Linked DNA regions of Homo sapiens: region 1 is linked to region 2. Evidence: fine-mapped expression QTL. A gene starts in region 2. The other region holds a variant in brackets. All regions are shown on one strand. Distances are from middle to middle. Region 1 overlaps NIPBL (NIPBL cohesin loading factor). Region 2 holds the start of NIPBL-DT (NIPBL divergent transcript).

What was found. PIP is the estimated chance that this variant, and not a neighbour inherited with it, causes the effect.
Region 1: its variant is the best candidate, but not a certain one, in a credible set for the expression of NIPBL-DT in whole blood (INTERVAL, PIP 0.52).

What each region holds. Positions count from the first base shown.
Region 1 is chr5:36,938,788-36,944,173 of GRCh38, reverse strand. All of the region lies in intron 1 of NIPBL (NIPBL cohesin loading factor), which reads right to left. Among named protein-coding and RNA genes, the nearest start is that of NIPBL, 65 kb to the right of the region's middle. The variant T/G (reference allele first, on the strand shown) is at 2,718.
Region 2 is chr5:36,873,553-36,878,938 of GRCh38, reverse strand. NIPBL-DT (NIPBL divergent transcript) reads left to right here and starts at 2,245. Exons shown (of 1, transcript NR_046262.1): 1 at 2,245-5,386. It overlaps NIPBL (NIPBL cohesin loading factor), which reads right to left and starts at 2,170. Exons shown (of 47, transcript NM_133433.4): 1 at 1,761-2,170. RefSeq lists silencers at 1,545-1,664, 2,305-2,414 and an enhancer at 2,825-2,874.

The DNA of each region.
Region 1 (5,386 bases), 65 kb before region 2:
ATATGCAAATAATTGTCCCTACTTCCAATAAAAACAAAACACAAAAAAACCCCACCATTTATCTTGACCCCTATGATCTCTCTCCAACAATGGCTTAATTTTTCTGTTCCCTTTCACAGCAAAATTCCCTCAGTTGTTTATATTCATCCCTAATTCTTCTCCTACTTTCTCTTGGAACCCACAACCATATGTGTTTTTATTCTCCATTCCACCAAATATCTTGCCACAGTTAGCAATTACATTAAAATTGCTAGATTCAGTGGGCAAGCCTCTCACCTCATATGATTTGACCTAGAAATCAACAAAGTTGATCATTCTCTCCTCCTTGAATAATTCTTTGTCTTCCAGAACAACACATTCTCCTAGTTTTTCTGCTGACTAAACTGGCCACTCCAGGATCCTCTTCTGGTTCTTTTTATCTTCCTCTCCGTACTCTACTGTTGAACTCATTCAGTGGCATGATTTTAAAATAGTGCTTCTGTGCTTCTGGCTCCCAAATTTGTATCTCTAAATCTGACTTTTCTCCCATATACTAGACTCATATCCAATTATCTAATCAATATCTCTGCTTTAGTACAAATTTATTCCCTCTTCCCAAACTGTTCTGATGCTAGGGTTTTTTTTTTATAGTTACATATGGATTTTAGAATCATCTTGTCAGTTTCTACAAAGCTGCTTGGAATATGATAGATATAGCATTCAATCTATGTAACAATTTGAGAACTGATAACCATATTGAGCATTATGATCTACAAACAATTTATATGTCTCCACTAATTTAGATATTCTTTAATTTCACTCAGCAATGTTTACTAGTTTTTGGTCTACGGTGCTTTCACATACTTTTTCAGATTCATTCCTAAGTAGTTCACATTTTTGATGTTATTATAATTGACAAATTTTTGATTTCCAATTGTTAATTGTTAGGATGCAGAAATACAATAGAATATTGTATATTAATTCTGTATCCCGAAAGCTTACTAAACCTTACTTATTAATTCTGGGATCTTTTTTGTACAGTTGGCCTTCCGTATTCACAGGTTCCACATCCATGGATTCAACAAATTGTGGACTGAAAATATTTGAGAAAAAACAATATGACAATAAAAAATACAACAAAAATTTGAAGTTACAATATAACAACTATATAGTTTTCTGTAATAGAAGGGTTTTTTTTTAACTAAAGATTACTGCGGAAAATTTTTTGTTAGGTACAAAATACTACAGTCTCACAGTGAGGTTAGCAAGAATTAAAACTTTTTTTCAGTCCTACTACTGCTAAACCATGTTTCCCTTGCGCTGTATTTGTGCAATTGGTTTCAAAAACTCAGAAAACAGTTCAAGAGAACCAAATATAACCACTAAATAATATAACTAATGAATGTGAAAAAAGATACTGGAATAGCTTTTTAGGGAGGATAATTTTTTTTTTTTTTTTTGAGACAGAGTCTGTCACCCAGGCTGAAGTGCAGTGGTGCGATCTCGGCTCATTACAGCCTCTGCCTCCAAGGTTCATGTGATTCTCGTGCCTCAGCCCCCCAAGTAGCTGGGGCTACAGGTGTGCACCACCACCCCCCAGCTAATTTTTTTATTTTTAGTAGAGATGGGGTTTCACCATCTTGGCCAGACTGGTCTCGAACTCCTGACCTCAAGTGATCTGCCTGCTTTGGCCTCCCAAAGTGCTGGATTTCAAGGCGTTAGCCACCGCACCTGGCCTTTTTTTTTTTTTTTTTTTTTTTTTAAAGACAGAGTCTCACTCTGTCACCCAGGCTGGCATGCAGTGGCACGATCTTAGCTCACTGCAACCTCCGACTCCTGGGTTCAAGCCATTCTTGTGCCTCAGTCTCCTGAGTAGCTCGGATTACAGGCATTCACCACCCCACCTGGCTAATTTTTGTATTTTTAGTAGAGACGGGCTTTACCATGTTGGCCAGGCTGGTCTCAAACTCCTGACCTGAGGTGATCCGCCCCACTCCGCCTCCCAAAGAGCTGGGATTATAGGCATGAGCCACTGCACCTGGCCAGGGAAAATAAATTTTTAAAAAGTCAACTTAGACCAATAAAAAACAGCTTTTTACTAAGGATCTAAGTTTTTAAATTATTTTAAATAGTTCGATTTACAGAAAAAGAAGCTATCAATGGAGAAAAGTGACTTGTGACTCATTACCTACAGCAACCTTTCTATGATTTCCACTGGACCCCTGCACTACATGACAAGTATACAAATTAAGGATGATGTAAATTAGGGATGTATTTTTTTCTAAATTAATATACTCATGGTCAATGAACTAATCATAACATGTAAGTTTTGATAACATCAAATACTATATCCTTTCTGTACATAAACTTTTAAAAATTTAGTTCTGTAATATCAATTTTTCATTAGAAAAATAATTTTTTAAATTTTAAGTGAGATTTCTGATTTATTTAATAATAGAGTTCCACAAAAGTAAACTTACTGTGAAACACAGATTATTAAAAAGAAAATGTAGTAGCCATATATCCCAGAGTAGAAGGCTAATGGAAACAGAATCAAATGACCATGTGTTATAGCATAATTTCTCAGATAATGATTCCAAACAGCAAAAACACCTGAACAAACTCTTTAATTAAACCTGAAACTCTCCAAACAGCATTTTTGGTGGTTTTTTTTTTTTTTTTGGTTCTGGGTTTTGAACGTCTTAGGATATTAACTCAATAGTGATTCCCCTTGTCCA[T/G]AACATGTGATAGCTGATTGATTTTTTTTAAAGTACCTAAAGAAGATAATTAGGAAGAAAAGCTTTCTTATGTTACAGGAGACTTTTATTGTTGTTTAAGAAAGTGAAGTAAAATTGGGGGGTATAGAAAAGAGGGATATAGAAAGATCGGTTTCTAAAATTATGTTTTAACACAATTAATTATGACATATAAACACAAAAGCAAAACTAGACTTAAAAAGGAAACACAACACTTTCAATTAGAATACTGAATTGCCTGAACTTGAAGGAGTAGTTTAATCTCTCTTTACCTATGTTTTCTTATCCCTGGGAGATGAAACTTATTAAGTGATTAATTTCTTTCTTTTTGATTATCTGGTTTCCTGAATTTTTTTAAAAAAGTAAACCTTTATGTATTCACTATCATGCACTTAATACCTAACACCTACAATAGGGACAACCAGCAGTTGTTGAGGATACAGTGGTAAACCAAATAGACATATCCTCACAGACCTTAGAGTCCAGTAGGGGTGATGAATAATCACTACGAAACATATAATTACATATTTGTGATAAATTCCATAACAGTAACAACAACATTTGATGATACTAACATAGTGCTTAACATATGCCTAGCATTGTTATCTAAGGGATTTATATATTTTAATTCATTTAATCCTTATCTTATGAATTAGGTACTACTTTTATGTTCATTTTAAGACAATAATTACAGAGGCACATAAAGATTAAGTAACTTGCCCAAGTCTGATTCCAGAATCCCCACTCTTAACATTCCAGAGTCCTAGCTGTTTTTTATATGAAAAACAAAACAAAACAAAGTGCTGCAAGAGAAAAAAAGAAGGTAACTAAACTTACGTTTGGGGAGGGAGGAAATGTCTCATTAAGGAAATCTCATAAGTAAGAGTTAAACAGGCAAAGGCGGAAGAAGAAATGAGGATCCATAATGATTAACATGCTCAAGTCCCTGAAGAAGGACAGAGCCTAGCTAAGGAAAGAAGATTATGTAACTGGTACATAGTGAAGGACTGACACAAGATGAGGGAGAAAAGGTACGTACAAATTAGTTCATTCCTGACCTGACAGACAAGCTGAAGGGGCTCTCAATTTGATTTATTTTGACTCATGCTACTTCAAAAAATAATCTACTGGTTATTTACATACATATCTTAGTTAATAAACATGGCACACTTAAAAATTGCTTAGTTTTGAATCCATTTCTCTCTTTTCACACAAGGCTGTATATACTCCTTAAAAATATTAACCTGAAATTACAATAACTGTGTTTACAGAATTAGTCATAGCTTTAAGGCCTTGGAAAGAACAATAGTTTCTCACAAACAGAGTATGAAAACAATTGCCTCAGAATAAACTTTAAAGGAAAAATCTAAATGCTAAGTAAAAGGGCAATTGTACATTCTTGGGTATTTATGAAATGAAAACTGTGTTCATGCAAAAACCTGCAAATGAATGTTCATAGCTGCTTTATTCGTGCTATGGTTTGACCGTGTCCCCCAAAGTTCATTTGTTGGAAACTTAATCCCCAATACAACAGTGTTGAGAGATGGGACCTTTAAGAGGTGATTAGTTCACAAGGACTCTGCCCTCATAAATGGATTAATGTTGTTGTCTCAGGAGTGGGTTCCTGATAAAAAGAAGAGTTCTGTCCCCTTCTATTTCTCCCCACTAATGTCTTGTGCTCTCTTGCTCCTCCACTTTCCATGATGGGATGACACAGCAAGAAGGTCCTCGTCAGATGTGGGCCCCTCAATCTTGAACTTTCCAGACTCCAGAACTATAAGAAATAAATCTCTGTTTTTTATAAATTACCCAGTCTCAGATATTCTGTTATAGCAGCACAAAATGGACTAAGACAATTTCATAATAGCGAAAAGCTGGAAACAAATGTCCTTCAATGCAGAATGGTTAAACCAACGATGGTAGAGCCATACTACAGACTGCCAGAACAATAAAAGGGAAAAACTATTGGTAAAAACATCAACTTGGATGATATAAAGGAAATTACACTAAGTAGAAAAAATACCAATTTCAAAAGCCTACAAACTACATGATTCCATTTTTGTAACATTCTTGAAATAATAACATTGTAGAGATGGTGAAAAGATTAGTGGTTGCCAGGGGCTGAAAACTCCCAAGTGGGCCAGACGCAGTGGCTCAAGCCTGTAATACCAACTTCAGGAGGCCGAGGCAGATGGATAGTTTGAGCCCAAGAGTTCAAGAATAGTCTGGGCAATATGGCAAAAGCCCATCTCTACAAAAAATACAAAAATTAGTCAAGTGTGGTGGTATGCACCTGTAGTCCCAGCTATTTGGGAGGCTGAGGTGTAAGGATCACTTGAGCCAGGGAGGTTGAGGGTGCAATAAGCTATGACTACACTACTGTATTCCAGCCTGGGTGACAGAGCAAGACCCTGTGAAAAAAACAAACAACAAGAGCGCAGGTGTGGTTATGAAGAGATACCACCTGAAGTAGTGTTTACAGTGATAGAATAGTAAGTTGAGTGTGGTACTGTTACACATAACTATATGTACACACAACTGTACACACACACACCTGCTGTACACGCACACAACAGTACATATCCAGCTGGTTAAATATGAACAAGCTCCCGGATTGTATCAACGTCAGTTTCCTGGTTTTGAAGCTGTAA
Region 2 (5,386 bases):
GTCTAACAGGAGCAGGCAGCACAAAGACAGGAATGGGAGATTAGTGGGAGGGAGGGAGGCCGGGATTGGGGCTCAGCAGGAGCTTCAGGCTTTTTAAAATTCAAACTGCTCCCTGACCAATACAAATCACGGACACGCTACTGACTACTACACGGATTTATAGCATTAAAAACATGCCTAGTACGTGACAGCTATATTAACTTCATTCTTTTAAACATTTATCCGTACGTTTGCAGGAAATGTGAAACAATTTATTGTAATCAGGACGCTAAACTCAAAAATAACCTCCACAAAATAACTTATTCTACAGTGACAATAATTTAATGACACAAAAAATATGAACCAATGTAACAAACACTAGTAAAACAAGGGATTTCGCTGAGCAGTGCTGCTTCATTTTAACCAATGAAAGTTTTCCTTCAGCGAATATGAAACAAAATATCAAAACGTGTAACCCAGGTACACTTTTCTAGCAATTTGCCTGACTGAGGAATTTTAAATTGGTGTTTCCCCCTTATACCAACCTACATTATGAACGCCTCCATAAACAAGCTCGAAACACTTAACTTACTCATGAACTAGAACTTGTCAAGTTAGAACTGATATTTTTCTCCAGCATTTACAGATACATTTAACCTATTAAAATGACACCTCTCTCATTACACAGTCAAACATCATGGCACAAACAGCCAATGACAATCCTGGGACCTCAAGAAGAACTGCCCTGACATAAAAGGATGGCACCTTCTACAATTTTTTAACCTCCCAAGGATTTTAAGTATAACTTAATTTCTTTTTTGGAAAAAGAAAAGAAAAGTGGTTTTACCCGTATCTCAGCACAATTCTCAGAACACTTAAAATTCTTTGTATGCTCCTACACGTTTTGGTCAGGAAGTACCTGAGTGTTTTACGTATAGTCGCTTAAAACTGCCCTTACATAACGCATACAAATAGAAAGTGGCAGAGTAAACCTGTCAAGTACTTTATACTTGTCTTTGAATAAAAAGTCCATGTGCAACAACACACTGTCAAAACAACAAGATAAAAGCTCTTGGGGAGGGGGAGATGTGCAGTGTCTACCACAGTATGTTTTTCTGTATTAAATATTCATGTGGACGATTTAATTCTTTAAAAAAGAAAATGAGTCTTTATGAACTTTCCAACGTCCAAACAAGTTTTAGAAAGAGAAAGAATTACCACTGGATCCGCGTCTGAGTATTTACGTTTGTCTCACTAACTGAAACTACTTCCTCCCTTCATGGGGTCACAGGGGGAAGAAGGGAGGTTGTTTGTTTCACTGGGACGTTCCCCACTCCCGGACCGGGAAAGTTGTAAATATGGGGACGATCAGGGCACATTTGCTGTTAGTTGTATTGTTTCCGCCTCCCCACTAGCTACGGCTCCACTCCCGGGCGAGGCCTGTCACCGACCAGCAGTCGCTCCGCTCAGCCCGGAGCTCTCCTAATCCCCGAGCTCAAGTAGATTCCGCTGGCCCGCGGCCTGCACTCTCCGCCGGGCCTACGCCTCCCCGGCCGCCCAGCAGGAGCCCAGTCCCCGCCACCGGAGCCGGCCGGGAGAGGGTACAAAACCACCGCTACCCAAGGCGGCTGCCACCAGAGAGGAGCGAACTCTAGACTCGCCTGTGGAAGAGACCTGGGGCCGCTAAGGAAACGGCGGGGAGGGGAGCGAGGAGGAGAGACGCTGAGGACCTGGCGCCGGCGCCGCCGCCGCCGCCGCCGAAATAAAGAGCAGGAATTTACCTGGGCGAATCGGCGTCTGAATCCAAGGGGAGGCCGAGGCCGCTGTGGCGAGAGACTATAATCCGGGCCGGGAGGGGGGGTGGCTACGGCTCCTCTTCCGTCTCCTCAGTGCGGGGAACATGTAGAGCCGGGGGGAGACCAGCCGAGAAGACAAATCGTTGCTTCTTCTTCCTCCTCCTCCTCCTTCTCCCACATAGAAACACTCACAAACACCCGACCACGGGCCCGAGCTACCGGGGGGGCATCGCCGCGGGCCCGGGAACCAATTCTCCTGTCGGCGGGGGCGTCCCTCCCTGCGGCTTGGTGGTGTCGGGTGAGTCGGTACCGACGGAGGGAGGGGGGGGAGGGCGGGGGGAAGGAGCCCTGTGTGTGTCTCTCTCTCGTTCCGTCTCTCCCTCTCAGAACAAAATGCCGACCGGAAGTGCAGCTGCAGGAATGACTCCCTCCGCCGGCGCCAAACACTAACAACCACCCCCTCTTCCCCACTCCACTTCCGCCACCGCCGCAGCCGCCGCTGCCGCCACTTGGGCTCGCGTCCTCGGCCGCGCCGCGCGGCACCCGGGCCCAGCAGCCGGGAGGCGGCAGCTCTCCTCTACGCCCGTCCCCTCAGGGCGGCTGTGGATGTTGCCAGTATTGTCGATGCTTCAGAGCGACGTTTGCCCTGCGACACAGGCGGGCCGGCTCTCCTCTGTCTTTATTTTCCTGGAGGCCGACAGGAGCGGGGCCCGAGTTCGGTGGTGGTCGTGAGCGTGGGGGGCACTCAGGCCCGGACGGGCTCTCAGGTCGCCGACGGCGGCGGCTGGAGGCCGCGCTGGCTGTCCCAGGTCGTCGTTAGCTTTAGGGAGCCGATCTCCGGGCGGCCCCACAGAGGACGCCCGCGATTCGATGGCGATGATGCCCGTTTTAAATGGTGTCCCTGCAGCCGGGTGGATGGATGGATCGTACACCTTGCCTTTTGAGAGCCGGGACCTTACGCCCGACTGCGTGTTATTTCTGCGAATAAGAACGCAACCTTTGGAGGTGAAGACGACTGTCGGCTGGATTGAATTGGAATCGTGTTTGTGATGATGCGTTTATTTCTGGAAATACGCGGTCTCCGCTGCTTTTGCTTTTTGTCGGCAGAGGTTTGGGTTCTTCTCTAACGGTCAGGATAAAGGCCTGTAGGCGACGCTGCGCGAGCGAGAAGCTCGCCCGCGGCTGCCCGGGCGCCCCCCTCTAGGTGTGGGTGGAGCCGAGCGCGCGGGGAGAACCGCCGGCCCCGACTCAGCCACCGGTGACTGCGGGCGACCCGCGGGCCTGCGGCCAGCTGATTTCAAACATCGTTTTCCTCTTTAGGTTCGGAAAACTGAGGCGCTGGACAAGGCTGGAATACAATATGTGATTATACGTACAGTACTATGGTTGTTGTAGTTTTTAAATTGTAAAACAAGAAGTAACCATTGTTCCACCGTTCTCTATTAAGTTTGTGTAAATTAAAAAGGGGCTATTTTCGGTAAAAAGTGCAGTAGGTAAGCGGAATTTTACTCAACCGGGACGAAATTCGTGTTATATGAATTGTATTGTGTATTTGTGTGTGTACCAGTGCGCTAAAAGTAAGTAGGAAAACTTGCTTAGATTATTCCTTTTGCCTCAGGCCACTCAGGGGGCCAAGATCCTGTCACTCCTTTTCTCTAGGCCCTGCGAATGGCTTCCCGTCTTGAGGGGAGTGAGCCAAAGCCTTGACTGCGGCAGAAGTCCCCGCGCGCCGTTGAGGGTGGGGGCGGGCCTGCCCTGGCATCCTTGCGAGTAGGACTCTTCCCTGAGCGTCGTCCACAGGGCTTGCTCCTTCACCTTCAGGATTTTGCTCGTGTCACTCGGTGCTTCCGCGGCTACTTTTAAACTGAAAGTTCCCTAGCCCCCTTCTCATTTTATCCTTTGGACAGTCTACATATCCATACTTGTTTATCTTCTTATCTCTCCTTCCCCAGTGCAATGTAAGCTCTAAGAGGACAAGAGGTTGTGTTTTTCTGCACTGGTGTTACGGCCCCCGCCTAGAATGCCACACAGTAGATGCGTAGTATGTGGTTAAGGAATGAATGCGATTATAAGGGCCTTGATGCTCCCCCATTTCTGTCTTTAATATGTACTTATATGCTACAGAGAGCTTTATAAAAGATTTAAAACACGTTTATTACAGAATTCTATAAAAATATATTGCTTCTAAACATTGGAAAGCCCTCCACAACACCAGAAACCCACAAATGAGGGATAAAATTTGTTTTTAGGCTTCTGTAAATGAGCATGCCCGAGGACAGTGCATCAAATGATCATATCCATACTGGGCCGATTATGTTTGCTCTTCTGAGTCTCAAACTGCATTCTTCATCTTGTCGTCCTCTGTCTTTCAAAATACATTAAAAGTGAGAATTTGGTTGGCTCAGAGCAAATCCAGCACTATTGGAAAAGTTCATTCAGCAAGTATTTATTGGGCACAAATGGGTACCAGGCACGCTAATTCAAAAGGTGTGTGTTTCTGAGGCTAGAAGGCCTTACATAAAGGACCACATGTGGCTACTTTGGTTGCTACTCAATTATGCTGTCAAGCAAAGCAAATGCTAGTGAAATTTATTTTTAGTTTTCTTCTGAAGAAAAGGTTCAATGAAAGCTGAGGTCAGGCTTGGTGTGGATATTTTAATTCACCATTTAGTTTGCTGTTTGCTTACACTTAGGTTAGCATTAGATATACTTAATCATGATTTTTGAGTACTATAAAACGTGAGAAATCTTATTTCCTAGTGGCTGGAAAAACAGGCTTTTTAAATTAAAATAAGTAAATATATCAGTAAGCTAGAAGCTATGCAATAAGGCTTTGGCTATGGTATTACAAATTTTCATATTTCATGTATTGAATTTTTGGACAAGAAAAGACAGCCTTGATAGGTATTTTATAACCATTAATACAATTAATCAAACATTGTTTAGTAAATCCAATCGTCTATTCATTATTATTTTTCCCATTAATCTTCAGAACAGCTTTAAGTTAATACAGATGACTCAGAATGTGTTTTTCACTCAGTTTCAAAATACCATTATTTCAATTCGCTAATAGAAGCACAATTATCTTCTTGTCTGCTTTCTTAAATGTTACTGGTAAACTAGTAATTTTGCATGTCCAGGTAACTGCAGCTGCTACAGTCAATCTGCTTTGGAAAGTCTTGGCATTATTGTGTCATTTAATTTAAAATTTTTAAGTTTTTTTAGTTTCTTCCCTTATTGAGGACTTATTAGGCGCTAATTAGCTTTATGCTAGACATCTCATGCATGGCAGTGAATGAAAACAACACTGCCTTTGAGGGTTTTAACTTGTATATAGTTTATACCATTTTTTTTCCAGGTTATAGAATCAAAGAAATTGTTTCAATTCATATCACAGTATTTCTCTATTAAATCAAATGGTATTTTGCTTGCATAAATTTAAGTATCCAAGTTGAGATCTTACATAGAATCTGTTAATCTAATATTAGTGTTTTCTTCATTTCATTGTCTTGGGTTTTTTTTTCTTAATAATTATTTTTCCCAATACCATCCATTTGTTTTGCTCTTACATTTTTAAGTCTTTTATGTTCCAAATCAGGTGACTTACATCC